Linked DNA regions of Homo sapiens: region 2 is linked to region 1. The links come from fine-mapping of genetic effects on gene expression. Tissue or cell type: fibroblasts. Region 1 holds a variant in brackets; the other region holds the start of a gene. All regions are shown on one strand. Distances are from middle to middle.

Region 1 (8,183 bases):
CAATGTGTAATAATCAAATCAGGGTAATTGGGTATCCATTATCTCAAGCATTTATCATTTCTTTGTGTTAGGAACATTACAGTCCCACTCTTTTATAATAGTTATCTTTAAGTTTACAGTAAATTATTGTTCTGTTGTGCTGTGAAATACTAGACCTTATTCATTCTATCTCTATATTTTTGTACCCATTAACCATCCCCACTTTATCCCCAGTCCCTCAACCTTGTTTCTTGTACTTGAATCCCTATTTTCATTACCTTCCTTAGGAAGTGGGGGCTGCCTCACCTTCCGCAGATCTCCTCAGAACACCATCTCGTTATGGGAGCTCAGCTACCATGTAGACTGCCATCCATTTAGCTCTGTTCATAGAGCTTACTGGTTGCTCTCTTTCCCATGATTGTGCTCTACCTGACTGTCACCTTTGCCTGGTTCTTGATGCCAGCTGCAACTGCAGAGTCACCGGTTGCCAATCATAACACTCACTGAATGCAATATGGCAGTCTCCTGAATTCATTTCCTTCCATTGCAGCTAGGTCCACTCTTTGAACAACCACTGCCAGTGCCAGAATTGAGGCTCAGGTCTGGGCCACTCCCAGACTCCCTCTGGTTAATAGGCCTGTGTGTATCATGATTAGAATGAAATTTCTATTAAGTCGTCATCCAATTTCTTGGGGCTTAGAGACCCAAAAGGCCACTAGTTTTTGAGGAAGCTGATTTTATCTCATGAAAAGAAATGACTAATTAGAAATGTTTTAATTCTGTGAACATGAAATCAGAGTCTACATAACACACACAGTGCTTTTGGGCACATTACAAAAAGGCATCTCTTCTAAACAGATCAATTTTTTTAAAAGAAACTCTGCATACCACAGCCTAATCCAAGCCACAGTGCTTGGCCATAGGAGCATGGCAAAATTTCAGCCCACATTTACCTCCTTGTCTGGAAGTCCTGGTGGAGGACTCCCATGAAGTTACATGCAGTCCATGTAACTCTATGTGACTGACGGATTGGCCCTGGTCTGTTCCTTGGAATCTCAAATAACAGGTCTAAATTGCTTTTCCACCACAAGACTCTCCAATTATTATTATTATTATTAGTAGTAGTAGTAGTAGTAGTATTAGTATTATTAGTATTATTTTTAGAGTCTCACTCTTGCCCAGCCTGGAGTGCAGTGGCTGATCATACCTCTCTGAAGTCTTGTGTGTTGAGGCTCAAGCAATCCTCCTGCCTCGACCTTCCCAGTAGCTAGGACCACAGGCATGTCCCACTGTACTTGGTTAATTTTTTTTTTTTAAGAGAAGGGGTTTTGCCATGTTGCTCAGGCTGGTCTTTAACTCCTGTCCTCAAGTGACCCTCCCACCTCAGCCTCCCAAAGTGTTGGGATTACAGGCATGAGCCACCATACTCAGCCAGAATCTCCAGTTATTTGGAAACAGCTGCTCTATTACCTCTGCAATTTCTTTTCTTTGGGTTAAACATCTTGAGTTCCTTCAACTATACCTCTTTGTGAAGTTTTAAAAATCCCTTCTCCTTCTTGTTGGCTCTGTTTGGAATATGCTTCCATTTATCTGTATTTTTCTTCAAGTATGCCCTAAACACACACAGCACTAATGCAGGTTGGTTTCACCAATGTGGATTTATAATTCTCCTTGTTCTACAACATTCTGTGTTTCTTTTAAGGCACCTTAAGACCAAAGAAAGTTGTTAACAGGCTGGCAAGAGAGACTCTGAGCTTCAGGTATCAAGTATTCTAACTTAAATAATTCTCAAATTAAACAAAACCAAAGTATTTTCTTACAATTACTTTTTTAAAGAGGAGTATAAAGAAAACTGTGAGAAACTCTGAGAAAGCAAAAGCTAAGCAAATTTTTTGTGATATATTTAGTTAGATTACAATTCAGTAACTTATTTCCTTCCATAGAGCAAATGCTGATTCCCATACATAATTTCAAACTATCTTCCTTCAATTCTATGTATACACATATACTTATCACTGAACTATTAAACTAATAGGTGAGCCTCTCAAATATCCAATATATGCCTATATCAGTTGTGGCAGTGACAGAGCTTAATCAATTAAATTCATAAGGGCTTGACAGAAAAAAAAATTAAATACATTTTGCCAGCAAATAATTTGAGCTCATGCAGATAAAGGGGAGGTGGTTAAAATTAAGAAGTTCATGTAGTTTTCCAAATTAAAGGAGATATTCTAATTACATCTTTAATGGTGTTGAGAATGTTAATGACGGAGGTTATGAGGTTCAAGGTCCTTAGGCAATATGGTTAGATTAGGTCACAGTCTAAATTCTGAAACTGTTTTCATGCTTTTAAATTAACTAATTGTTGATGTGGATGTATAGCAGGGACTGAAATGAACTAAAGGGTTTGACTTAAGTGTGGTTTGGAGACAGATCTATGTGTCTAACTATAAACGCACAACTGTATCATCTCTTTTAGCTTGTTTGGATAAGCCTAAGATTCTTATAAAGGAGGATAAAGATGGAGATGGCTGGGCCAGATGCAGTCGCTCATGTCTGTAATCACAGTACTTTGGGAGGTGGAGGTGAGTGGATTGCTTGAGTTTAGGAGTTTGAGACCAGCCTGGGCAACATTGTGAAACCCCCATCTCTACTAAATACAAAAAATTAGCCAGGCATGGTGGTGTGCATCTGTAGTCCCAACTACTTAGGAAGCTGAGGTCAGAGGATCACCTGAGCCTGGGAGGTTGAGGCTGCAGTGGGCCGAGATCACACCGCTGCACTTCAGCCTGGGCAACCAGAGTGAGACCGTTTCAAAAAAAAAAAAAAAAAAAAAGGGAGATGGCGGAGGAAACTAGAATAAGCATGATGGGGAAATTCTGAGGGGACATAATAAAGTTGCAAACATGAAGACTCCAGAATCAGACAAACATGATTTCAACCTTGCCTCTGCTATTTTATATTATGTGACCTCTGGGCAAGTTATCTATTTTACTTTTACTTAAGTCTTAGTATTCCTGTTTAAAAAATGGGTTTAATAACAGCTATTTTGAAAGTACTGTGGGGTTAATTGAGATTACATAATGTAAAGCTCTCAAGATATAGTATATGTTCAATAAAATGTTTGTCTGTCTACCAGGCAAGTTGACACAGGCAGTATGGTTCCAGGAAGTGCTTATAAGGTTTAGATCTTTAATGGAGAATCCTTCTCTGCAGAAAAGCGCTGCTCCACAATAAAGATTCTGAGGACTTAAAAGCACTCTATAATCAGAGACTTAAATGGCTGCTACACACTGATAAAATGACTTGGATTCCTCCTGGATGAGGGGTACACATGAGTAGAAGACATTATTAGTAATCTTCAGTTGTCAGTTGTAAAGTATGCAGTCAGGAACTAAGCAAATGATA[T/C]GCCCTAATTTCAACACACTGTTGGCTTTGGAATTAGGGCCAAGTTTTCGTGACATGTCTCCAGCTGGCGTCTCAGTGGTGCTGGTTTTCTGGATGGCAAAACATCCTGTTCAGGATCCCTTATGATCAAAAGAGCTCATCCTAGGGATTAGCCTGTCAAAGAGATAATGCACTGAATCTTACAGAGAGAAGAATGGTGACAGGACCATTATATGACCTGAGATAGGTTCGATATTCTGTAGTGAATCCACTAATTCTGCTTAGTTCCTTTAATTATGCTGGATAAAGGAGATTATATCTATGAGGTACTTGGTTTATGAATTTTCTGTATTTTGGCCCAGACTGCCTTTCAATATACATTTTCATGAGGACTTTTAGATATATCCACACTTGAATGAAATAGAGTCTATACGCAGAACATCAACAAGGAGAGTGATAATGCAAGAGTGTGGAAAGAACTTGAGATGCAGACCTGGAGGATTTTGGATTGAGGTCCTGATTTCCACATACAATTTCTAAGTATCATGGTAAAGTCACTTCACTCCTTTAGACTTCAAGTTCCTCATTTTCCAAGTGAGGATTATGATATCTAACTCCAAAGATGCAGTAAGGATTAAATGAAGAAATGTAACTGATGTAATGTAGGCCTTACAGGTAGAAGGTTCTCAACAAGTGTTTCCTGGATGAAAGACATGAACTATATTTAAAGCAATGTACAAATATTGACTCAGATGTGAAGAGCTCTGTAATTCTTACAATGCTAGTTTTCCCATATCCTTGAAATACATGTCAGTTTTTCTGACTGAAAGTAGCAAATGTTTAAACAAAAACAATCAAAACTAAAATTTTATTATTCAAAATTCACAAAAGTAAACAAATGAGAAAGAAGTCTAGTTAAACTTTCAAATTATGTGGAGTTTTTTTTTTAAGTTTGTAGCACTTATATTTCTAAATTAGTCAAGCCTAAAATTGTGCTAAGACTTTTAGGACCCTGTGTGTGTGTGTATGAAATTAAATTATGTAGTGATGTTATTATTGAGAGAAACTAGCATCTCCAAATAATTCTGCATGGCTTCATAAAATCAAATTCACTCAAGCTTTGGCTACTGCTAACATTTTAATATTTAATAAAAATATCAGAGTGTTTTGCCAATAACCAGGCTAATTCCACAGTGGGGGAAAATGAGATAAAGAAAAAACAAGTGGCTTAACTAAGGCCATGTACTGACCCAGATTTTCTCAGTGAACAAACATTGCTTCTGGGCAAAGAGTTTGCCGTTTTGGAACTGGCATTAAGTTAGGAAGGCTGCTAGGACAGTACTTAGTAATTTAGTTTTTGTAAACTCCTTGGCTTTGTGTCTTGAGTAGTACTAATGGCCCATTATTACTTTAATGATAATAAAAAGAAAAGTGGAAGGGTAGAGAGTCAGGTAGCATTGGAGGTAGTGTTCATGGGATATAGGCATGGCTGGCATGCATGCTGCATTTCAGGTAGGTGTAGAGTACAAGGGAAAGGGCATAGGAATAAAAAGCATAAGTAAAAGTAAAGCATATAAAAAATTGATACCTTAAGATACAAGAATTTATGACATGGGCAGCAGGGTACAGACTCAGACAGTTTCAATATTTGGTTATTGAGCTACTTGCCGCGGGGAGGCTGCAATCCCTCTGCAATGCCAATAAGAAGGGGATGTATATGGACTGAGGTACAAACTGCCTCTGCCATGGAGCCATTATTCCCCTGGTAGGGGAAAGGGGTGGTCAAAAGAAAATTCATACTTTTATTGTTTACTTCCAGTACACAAGACTTACAATTATTTGTGTAACATAAATTTAAATAATTGATGTTTTCAGCTGTAATTTTTGGATTACATTTCAAACAGTTCAAAATACATTTATTTTTTCTGATAAATAAAACACCCTTACACAACTTTTAAAAAAATTCTAAAAAATATCTGCTACAGAAATACCTATATCTGAAGGAAATTAATGCCTTACTTTATTGTCCAGGTAGAAACTGACCAATCTTGTTTGGGTCTACCTACTCCCCATTACCTATCATGAGCTATTTTTAAAAACTAGTTTTTATTATGTTTCAGAATGATTAGCTGACTTTCTTTGCAGTTTAGGGAAATTTTCCTTTCCCTAAGCCCTTTAGAGTCCTTTCAATAAAATGCACTGTGTGTAATGGCAAAAAATATTTCATGCAATCTTATGCAAAAACAGGAATCTGAAAATGGAAATCTTAGGAATGAGTTATTAAGAAAAGACATTTGGATCAAAGAAAAACGTATTTCTAAAGTGAGTGTGATTTATGGTGTTAGGATGGGACATCTTGCCTTCTGAGAAACAGACTTGCTTGACCCAGTTTGTGTTCAGCTATCTGGTAACTTGTTAAAAAGGATTAACATGTAAGGGTCTGGAAAAACTCTAGTCTCTAAGTGGCTATTTAGTATGGGCAGGAAAAGGCTGTTTTTTTCCTAGAAGCCTGGGGCCATACTTTTCCTATGTTCCCATCTAACACATTTAAGGCACACCTGTTGCTGAGAAATGCATCCTCTACACTTTACAGGGTACGTTTATACACACAGTAGCAACTGAGTCATTTAGTCTGCCATAAGCTGCTTCCAGTTTTTAGCCTATTTTCTCTGGAAAATAATACAATTTCTCTTTTTTGGCAACATTCCTATGAATAACAGTGCAAGGAGAAAAACAAACAATTATAAATTTTTAGATATTTAAAAGACATTGGTGGCCCGGTGCAGTGGTTTGTACCTATAATTCCTGCACTTTGGGATGATGAGGCAGAAGGATTGCTTGAGTCCAGGAGTTCAAGATGAATCTGGGCAACACAGTGAGACTTCATCTGTACAAAAAATTAAAAACTTAGCCAGGCATGGTGCTGAGTGCCTGTAGTCCCAGTTATTCGGGAGGGTGAGGTGGGAGGATTGCTTGAGCTCAGGAGGTTGAGGCTGCAATGAGCCAATATTGCACCACTGGACTCCAGCCTAGGTGACAGAGCGAGACCCTGTCTCAAAAATAAATAAATAAATAAAAAAGTAGGAAGACATTGGCTAGGTTTTTTCCCCTAGCCTAATGGACTCACTGGACAAAACTTGATTATAAGGGTGGTAGAATACTAGAATGAGCTTATGACATATTCTGTTAATTAGAAAAAATCTTTTGAAAGCAACTTACTGAGGGATTTAAAAAGTACTAAAAAAAGAGACAGCAGGAAAGCAGTGGCTTTGGAACACTACGGGAATCATAATGAGGAAGCAAGTTATTTGCTAGTGCCCCTCCCTCTTCAGCTCTTAGTGTATCTTTGGCAGATTGAAAACACTTAGTCAACTTCCTTTTTAAATACAGTAGACATGACATTTATGGCCTCCTCACTTACTCCTCCTTAGAGAATTTCCCCTCTCACTTTCCAAGAAGCAGTTCTATGGGCCCATGACAGGACCCTCCCCAGTTAGCCCAGCTACAGCTGACTGGATCCAGGTGACAACCAGCTTGTGCTAGACAGACAGGTCCCTCTCCAAGGAATTTGGAATTGGGGCAGAAGGACAGGAGTCAGTTAACTTGCCTGTGGGAGTTTGGTTTGAAAGTTCACATAGAGTCTGAGCCAGACTTAGCACCACTGCCAGCCAGAACCACATGTACTAAAGATTTAGTAGGGCCGGGAAGTCATGAGTAGGCTGAGAAAACTGGCAGAGGGCAGGAAAAAGGAGCAGACACAGTGAGAAGGGTAGAAAGAAAAAGCTAGAGACCTCAGGAGAGATGACTTACTCTAGTTGGTTTAAAGGAGTTTTTATACTTGACAGCTGGGGGTGGATCCAGGTTTTTTTTTTTTATTATACTTTAAGTTTTAGGGTACATGTGCACATTGTGCAGGTTAGTTACATATGTATCCAGGTTTTATGGGGCCCGAAACATATATCATTTTGGGAGCCTTCTCCAGAAGAAGAATTCAAAATTACAACAGACAATTTGGTACAGGGTCCCATGAAGCTCAAGTGAGAGGCCCTAAAGCTTAAGCTCCATTAATTTCCTTTTCTCTCTGTTTACAATCAAGTCATTTCTGAGGAAGATATCCAGACACACACTAAGGAGAATCTTTTGCAGAAGGTCAGGAGGAATCTGAACTGAATTTCCAAGGAAACTTTTTTCTGGAGACCTTTACTTAGGGACATTCTGGTGAATTCTTTCTTTGGCCATTTCATCTCTGGAAGCCTATGTGCTCCCGGGATTCTGAGGGTCACACTCACAACTCATTCTCTAATTCCATACACACCACACTGGTCTTTCTTCTACATATTTCAATTTTGTTACTGTCCCCTAGGAATTTGTTTGTGTTTAAATAATCCTTTAAAGGAATCTCTGAGGTTTATTTTCTGTATTTGGAATTTTGCTGCTTGGTCTGCATAGTTACAACCACCTGTTTTCTTCTTGAGTCATTATTAACAAAAAAGAAAATTCATGAGGCACATGCTGTTTCCCTGTTTGGCTGGACTTCTTCATTCTCATCACGTCCTTGAAGGGTTTCAAATTGCCTGGTGGCCACTCTTCTAATCCTATCAGTCTGGGAATATTTTAGAGGACTGGATAGCAATACTTACATTGCTATCTTAAAAAATATGAGCTCTCAACCCTAATATCCACAGAACACTTCAGATAAAGCTTCTAATATTGTATATATAATTACTAATGTCTATGAAATGGACAAAACATAACAATCAAAGGGAAAACTACTCAGAGTAGAGTCTGACTTCTTTTCCTTTCCCTTCCTCTATTCC
Region 2 (8,183 bases), 240 kb after region 1:
ACCCATTATATTCACCAGAATATGTGCCCTTCACTCTTTGTCCCATATATTAGTGAATGGCACTTCCATTCCTCAAATCAACCAAGTCAGAATCATCTTCCTCATACCACATGTCAGACTGGTGAAAACAATCTGCAAATTTTATCTCCTTAACATTTCTTTGGTTAAACTCCTCCTTCTCATCTCCACAGTTACTGCCTTAGTTCCTTAGGCAATCATCTCTCACCTTTCTAGTATGATCCACAGCATATAGTCGATAGTCAACAGACATTTCACAGAATAAGTTTATGAATAAATGAATGCAACAATGAATGGAAAATTCTCACAATTGGTATCATCTCCTTATAGGCCATATTGACTCCATTTTGCACTCCAATTTATTTGCTGAACTAATGAAAGGCAGATCTTTCCAAAATTTATATCTGATTATATCATTCCCCTGATTATCACCATTCAATGACCACTACTGCCTACAGGATAAATACAAGATTCTATGGTCAGCATCAGAATCTATCCAACAGATTGGTGATTTGCCTTTTGCTCTACCACCCTTTCTTGTGGCTTTCCTCACCCTGAAAATACTTAACAGTACCTAGAATTACTGTGCTGATTCACAACTCCATATCTTTACTCAAGCTGTTTTCTCTGTCAAGATTGTTCATTCCCTCCTGCTATGCCCACCTGAAAATTAACTACTCATTTGTGGAAACTCAGCTTACACCTCACTTCCCCTTTGAAGCCTGTGCTGACTTTTCTGCCCGGGCTTCACTTCTTTTTCTTTTCTCATGTCACTTTGTAACCTCTCTCTCTAAGCACACCAATAACATTGTTTCACACTTGTTCACAGGCTTGTAGTAGTCCCTTGCTGGCGTCTTTTCCTTCCTCCAGAGTGGAGGCCTTTGCCTTGTTAATTTGGGAATTAGCACATATTACACACTCTAATAATTGTAGATGGATACATAGATGAAGGAGTAGATGATAAGAGTCATGGAAATATTTTAGGCAAGGGGATGATATGATAAGATTTGCATTTTACGAACAATACTATGATGTTAGAGCAGAGAGAAGGCTGAGAACAGAAACCAGATGATCAGGCAGGAGAATATTACAAATCATCTAATGGAGAGGTAAGAAACAGAATGGAATAGAAGTGGTAAAGAAGAAAAGGGAATGTATTTGAAAAATACCTATAAAGTAAACAAACAATAGTTAATGACCTTTTGCCTGACCAGAAGGAGTAAGTATGAGAAAAAGGATGACTTCAGAGCTCCTAGCTTGGGTGACTTCTTCTTGTCTCCTTGTTTAATATCTATAATTCACATCCATAGCATTAAGTCAGGCAAAGATACATTAGGCAAAGTGATCAATTACATGTATCTGCAACACCGTTTCCCATGTAACTTCTCAGAACCACATTTGCTGCATCAACGCAAATTTATATATGAAGCCTCATCCTGTGTCCCCCTACTACCCTCATTATTCTTCAAAATTTTCCTTAAACAAGGAGGAATTAAAAAGGGACAAACAACATTCAGGGAAATGAGCCACCTCATGTTTGAATAGCACACTAATAAAATGAAGAAAAGTTGAAGATAGGAAATATGGCTGTCAGGTAAATCCTAAAGAATAGTAAGGGCAAGGATCTCCTAATCTCCACTAATTTATAAAGTTTAAGGGAAAATATTTGAAGTAGGTCATCCCTTGCTCTGTCCAGCCATCCTATCAATAGGCTAGGATATGTACTCTTGAAAAGACATTTTATAACCCTAAAATACCATTATAATAATTATTTTTGCATAAATAATAGAAATTTATATTTACCTCAAGCATAACTTTAAACATGCTTTTCTTGTTTCTTGGCAGTGAAAACACTGGTTGACCAAGTAAATTCACCCCTGAAGTACCTCATTAATCACGGTGCACTTGTTCTTGGCAAGAACCTTAATATGCTACAAATACTGTTATTAAAATAAGATTTGGGGATTCCCAAGCTGGCAGGGAATTAGTTAGTTACACCTCTCTCGAAATTATTTTATTGGGGTCTAGTTAAACTTACAGCATAAAGCAACTTCGATAAATGAATGTAATGTGTAAAGTCTGGCTATTCTAAAGCTCATTTAAAATCACAAGCAGCAACTGCCAAAGATGGCCTCTTTCCTCAGGGTCTGCTTAGTTGTGCACAATCCTCCCAAAAGATGATACTATCCATTCCCTCTTTGTGCTAATGTGGATATAGCACCCCTATCTAATTGCTGAGGCATTGCAGTTTCAGACTCTAAAATGTATAATCAAAACTTCACATTTGCTACATCTATTAAGTACACAATTTATTTCCTGTCTACTACTAAAGATACTGCTAGACTGATAAAGCCTGGTAGACAGAGAAGTATCCAACCTTGAACCTTTGGAAAAATCATTTATTAATGTTTTAAAATTCTGTAAGCCCATACAAACCTGTTAACACCAACACATGGAAAAGAAAATGTTGTGTTGCAAGTTCTCATTCATGTTCAAGAACAAGTTAGGAGATGCAAAGTATGTGCACCAACCAAGGCTTTCTTTAACTCTCTCTGAATATACAATGCATAATATAAAAAAAAGAAAGGCTAGAAATGTTTTGAGCATACTGTTGTAAAGAAAAAATCATAACCTATACAGTATATATATTTGCTACCAAATTGAGCATTATAATTGCTAAATTATTTTAGTATATTCTGACAGGTCAAAATAATTTACCAGGCTTATTAAGTAATATGTTTAATTACATATCAGGTCAGAGGAGATTAACGAGAAAAGTGTCAGTTGCATTTCTCTATCATTATCCTAACCACATTTAAATAAATGTGAATTTTACATAAAAGTTATACTTTTTGATGTAATGATGATGCAACACAACCGTTCTCCTTGTGTGCATTGTAAAACGGAAAGTTGGCTGGAATATTCTGCCTAATGCTACATGTTCACGTCAATCTGGGACTGTAAAATTTTCCAGACACCAGAGCCCCACAGATTGTAGACTCCACCAATTTCCTGACTCCTATGTGGTTGAATTCCAGGTTCACCTAGTTACAAAACCAGCCCTTCTTCCATGTTATTTCAAAACACGTTTCTGGTGTTGATGCTAATTCTGCATCCCAGGAGAGAGCTATGTATGGATGACATAACTTATTTCTAAAAGAAACCTAGTCCGTGTGCTCAAAACTTATTTTACTAGGAAACAAGGAATGTATCAGCGAGTATCTGCAACTTTCTCTACTGGTCTTCTAAGGTTGATGTCTTTATATTTCATCTTAACAAAAAAGAAGCAGAAATAATAATACTAAAAAAAGAGGAAGCAAAAGGAGAAGAGGAAGAAAAAAAGAATTAGACACGAGGTAACATTATAAAAACAACCTTAAAATGCCCAGATAAACGTAACTCTAATAGGAGACTGAATGAATGGACTTTGTGGGAAAAACAGTAGTAAACTTTAAAGCCACTGAAAGGTTTTAAATGCCTAAGGGAAAAATAAACATTTGCTTCCAATCATTTTCTCATTAAGCATTCTCTGCTAGATGGAGAAGGCTTACTACACACACACACACACACACACACACACACACACACTCTTTGACTCCGCGCCACAAACGGGGACTTAACCCACTGCCCGATCTCTGTCAGAGGCGACCCATTTGCGCTTCTGCTATCGCACCTCCGCCCGCGTTCCTGCGCCCCAGGTTCCCCGCTGCCTCCCCGCCCCCTGCAGCGCGGGAGCGTTGCTTCGCCTGGCCTGCTGGCCTCCTCTAGACCTTGGCCACCTTCTCCGTGGCAGGAAGGGCTACATGCACTGACAGATTTTCCGTTGGTGGTGGCTGGGTGGTGGCGAGGCGTGTTTCCGGGCGCGCTTAAAACCTAGCAGCTCTCTCCAAGTAGCAGCTTCCCCTACTCCGCCCCTAGGACTGAGGACCTAGCCCTCGATGCCCCCTCACTTCTCCCCGTCCTACCCCGCCATCACCTCCTAACCTCTCCAGTATACTCTCAAGCCTCACACGGGCGCCTGTCCTCCCTTTGCATTCCCTAGCTCCCGGGCGCCCCGTTCGGTTGAAGTTTACGTATCTTGGGACCTAATTGCTCCCAATTATCCGCGCAGCCTAAGTCCCGCGTCTGCCTGGCTCTCGCCCCGGGAGCCTGAAGCTACCGGGCAGTTCATTGGGTGTCCTCGGGGAAAAGGTTCAAGCTGTAGAGATGAGAGAAGTGGGGCTGGGGGAGGGGAGAGGCTCCAGAAGGAAGACCACGAACACGTGCGAAGAAATAAAAGCCACCACGTGTGCACGCGCGCGGGGGCCCAAGGGCGCGAGCGCGGAGCACGCCCCAGGGGGCCAGGGACAGTGGTCCCCTGCAGCGGGCATAGCAGGGGGCGCGGGTACTCACACGAAAGCGTGGTAGATGAACGCCCAGCCGCGGGGTCTCTCCAGCACGTTGTACAGGTAGTTCTGCACCCGCCGGTACTTGACGTTGCGCCGGCAGCTCTGGCTACTCGTGTAAGAGAGCGGCTTCCCCAGCAGGCTCATCCGGGCCCCCTGCTTGCCCCGGCGGCTCTCCCTCAGGCCACCGCCGCCGCCACCGAGCGTGGCCGCGCGGGTGCCCAGCAGTAGCAGGCCGTCGCCCCTGGCGGCTGCCGAGTTCAGCAGCACCCTGCCCCGGCCGGACTCCACATCCTTCATGCCGCTGCCCAAGCGCCCCCCGCCCGCCGCCGCCGCCGCTGCGCCGCTCTTCACCCAGAGCCCGGCGGCGCCGCCCTCCTCTCCTCCCGCGTGGTGGCGGGGCATGGCATCACCACGGGCACCGCGAGGGGGCCGCCAGCGCCTGCGGCGGGGGCAGCGGCCTCATGTGCGCCGGCGGGTTTCAAGGAGGAAGCCGGCGGCCGACGGGGCGCCCGCCAGCCAGAGACCTCTGAGCCGGGGGCGGGGAAGCAGGCAGCCAGCAAACCGCCCGGGCTTCGGGGCGGGAAAGGAGGGGCTGCAGAGGAGGCCGAGGAGTCCCAATTTCTAACAGCCTTTAGCTTCGAATTCTAAATCCGGACCTGTTTGGGGCGTCACTTTGAGAGGGTTTCTCTTGCTCCCTCATTCCCGCGACTACCACTCCCTCCTTCCCAAACTGCCCCCGGGGATAGAGTGGGGGAGTGCGGGGCGCTCCGAGGCGCGCTCCCACGCGCGCACACCCAGCCCCAGGCTTCCCCTTCCCTCTCTCCACTCCCCACGCCCTGCAGCGAAACGGCCCCAGAAGCCCCTCTCCGAGGCGCGAGTTCGGTTTGGTTCTGGCAGGGGCTTTGCAGCTGTCCGGAAGGTGAAGTCAGCCTTGTGTCCTGAGGAGAAACTGGAGATGCAGGTCGCTGTGCCCTCCCGCTGCTACGTCGCTGCGCCGGATCCTGCCATCCTTCCGCAAGGGGTGAGAGCGGGAACAGCCCTGCCCTGCCTTCCAGGTATTATCTAGCCTGGAGGCTGGAGCGCAAGGTAACGCTCCGGGAAGTGGCACTCGGGTCCCCGCACACGGGCGAGTCCTCAGCAGTTCAGTGGACAGACCCGCAGGACGCGGCTGCCAAGTCCGCGAGGCAAGGACCAGGCATCTTCCCGCGCCTCACTCCAGCCTGCGGACTGTGACTTTCCATCCCAGTATCAGACAAGCTCGCGAGTAACTGAACATCCTTTCCAGTCCATGGGTGGGGTGTGGAAAGGGCGTAAAACTCCAAAGTGGCTCCTCCGCGGTGAGCGAGCTGCCCCGGGGCTCTGCCTGACTGCAGCGCGAAGCCTGGGAGAACAAACCCAGTTCCCTCCGTCAAGAAATTTCCATTTAAGTCCGAGAAAGTCATATGATTGAGAAGTTCAGCAGCGGCGGCGAGGACCCAGTGTCTGGGAAAGAACACCTGGAGGATGGGGTGTCCAGGACGCCGGCTTTTCGGGGTTCCGACCCCACCCACCTTATGTTGTAACATACAAGCTTAGAGACCTGTTGCAAGGAACAACTGACTGGGTCTTCCACCACCCCTGGCACCCGGGTGGCCCAAAGCCTATGCGCCCTTGGCGGAGAGAGAGGCCACGGTGCCACTGGCCGCAGCCTCTGGCCTTCAGAAACAGTGTATTACAAAGAAAAGGCAGTTTAAATCTCACATTCAGCATAGGGAAAACTGAAGGGTGCCAGGCTCGGGGACTTCTTCCAACAGAGTGGCTCTTCCCCAAATATGAAAGAAAATCATCAAATTAAATTGAAGGCAAAACTAAGCTTCCACCACAAAGACATAGCAGATAGTTGCAAGGTGGATTCCTTCGGGCCTTTTCCTTTCCTAAGGCTAAAACAATGCTAAGACAAAAGTCTTCTTGCAGCTGTCTCCGCCCCTCCGAGATAAATACTTTCCCAATTCTCCCCCACCCTGTACACACACCCACGCCCGCGGCAGCTGATTTCTGTCTTCTGCAATAGCTCGATTTAAATGCTTTGCTTTTACTCTTTATTATCACTATTATTTGTGTGAAGCCCTCTCGCCTGCTCCTGGTCACCAGCAGGAGCCTGCTTCCCTCCCTCCTTCCCCCCAAGCCTCTGGGCAGCAGAAGCTAGCTGGGAGCTCTGTGCAGCTGGCGGCGACGCCATGTGACTGTGAGCCGAGCACCATCACCCAGAGTCACTCTCTAGCTTTCCCCTAATACACTTCACACCCACGCACTGTGGAGGTGCGAGAGAGGTTGCTCCGTGCGGTGCTATTCGAGGCAGATGCAGAGAGCGCCCTGGAGTAAGCTCTCCAATCCTAGAGCTGCGCGGGACCCTGACTGAAGGCGGAGGGGGCGGGAGGGGGTGCTGTTGCTATATTTAGACTCCCTATGGAGTTTCTGTGCAGGGACTTTCAGGGTGAAAGATCTAGAGACTTAAAATGACTCGTGTGCCCGCTTTAAACGTCAAAATCTTGGCCTTTCTGCAAGCAGTAAAATGAAAACCACTTCCTCTTAACTTAGCTGTTTTCCTTGTTGCAGACTGCTACTTTCGCTGGGTAGGTAAAGTCACTTCCATCTCTCTGGCGCGGCTGGGCCCCGCGTGCAGGCAAGAAGTCTCAGGAAGGCAGGACACAGGGACACGTTTCCCTGGAAGACAGCCAGCTGTTTAATTTCTAAGTGATGCTTTTCTGGGGATGCAGCATTAGTTCTAGTGAAACTGTATTATTGATTAAGCAAATGCCATTTAAGCTTAATTAAAAAATAAAAAAGACCCGGTTACTGGTAGCCGTTTTGAGCTGCTGAGAAGGACCTTTCACTTATGTCTTCTAGAGTAACCGCCATTTGGATACACAGCCCAGAAAAAGAGGGCCTGCTCAAGTTTTCGCGGGTAGTGTGAGAGTTACTAGGAATCCAACAACCTGGCTTCCTAGTTCACTGTTCCTTCCACCAATCAATCTGCATCTCCAGCAGAGAATGGATAAAATAGCAAACAGTTCTGGGGTTTTGTATCAATCTCTGACTGCAACCATTGGGAAAGACTGGCTTAGCTGAAGTTCTAACCTTCCTACCTTTCAATGCCCAGAAAGAAAAAGCCAAGTGAGTCTGTGCCAACCTCTCCTACAAGAGCCTCTGTTTGCACCTTGCTTTATTTGCTACCTGCTAACTTCCCTCAAAAGACGGGAATTAACTTTGGAGAAAATAAGGTGTTTGCGATTAAGCTTTGTTGTTGTTCCTTTGAATACAGACGTTGCTAGGAAACTGCCTTTTATTAGTTCGTTTTGCTGAAATATTAAAATTCAAATTTAGAAAAGAGGATAGGCATACTGAGCAGTGAGTAAAACAGTGTATATTCTATGCATTATAATTACATTAGAGCATTATGAAGAGGTAAAGGCAAATGTTAACTGCTAGTGTAAAGTATGTGAGTTGATTGGCCCTCCCCATCTTTTGAGATGTGTTTGCTTTTACTCATTCATTCTCTTAAGATGCTTGCCTGAAATTTATGACCTTGGAAACATTTTCTGAAGTCTACATGGATATGGTTTCAACTGAACATAGTTTCTAGAGATATTTTATTTTAGTGTGTTTCTTTTTCTTTTTTGGAGATGGGGTCTTGCTGTTTTGCCCAGGCTGGTCTCCAACTCCTGAACTCAAGCAATTCTTCCACCTCAGCCTCTCAAAGTGCTGGGATTACAGGCGTGAGCCACTGCTCCTGGCCTC

The links. PIP is the estimated chance that this variant, and not a neighbour inherited with it, causes the effect.
Region 2: it holds the start of KCNQ5, and the variant in region 1 is fine-mapped to the expression of KCNQ5 in fibroblasts (GTEx, PIP 0.97).

Annotation. Positions count from the first base shown.
Region 1 is chr6:72,860,885-72,869,067 of GRCh38, reverse strand. The region is part of intron 1 of KCNQ5 (potassium voltage-gated channel subfamily Q member 5); the gene reads right to left. Among named protein-coding and RNA genes, the nearest start is that of MIR4282, 100 kb to the left of the region's middle. The variant T/C (reference allele first, on the strand shown) is at 3,388.
Region 2 is chr6:72,618,815-72,626,997 of GRCh38, reverse strand. It overlaps KCNQ5 (potassium voltage-gated channel subfamily Q member 5), which reads right to left and starts at 4,934. Exons shown (of 14, transcript NM_019842.4): 1 at 4,411-4,934. The coding sequence starts at 4,808. It overlaps KCNQ5-DT (KCNQ5 divergent transcript), which reads left to right and starts at 4,319. Exons shown (of 3, transcript NR_186827.1): 1 at 4,319-4,466. RefSeq lists silencers at 3,600-3,649, 4,680-4,939 and enhancers at 3,298-4,249, 6,360-6,549.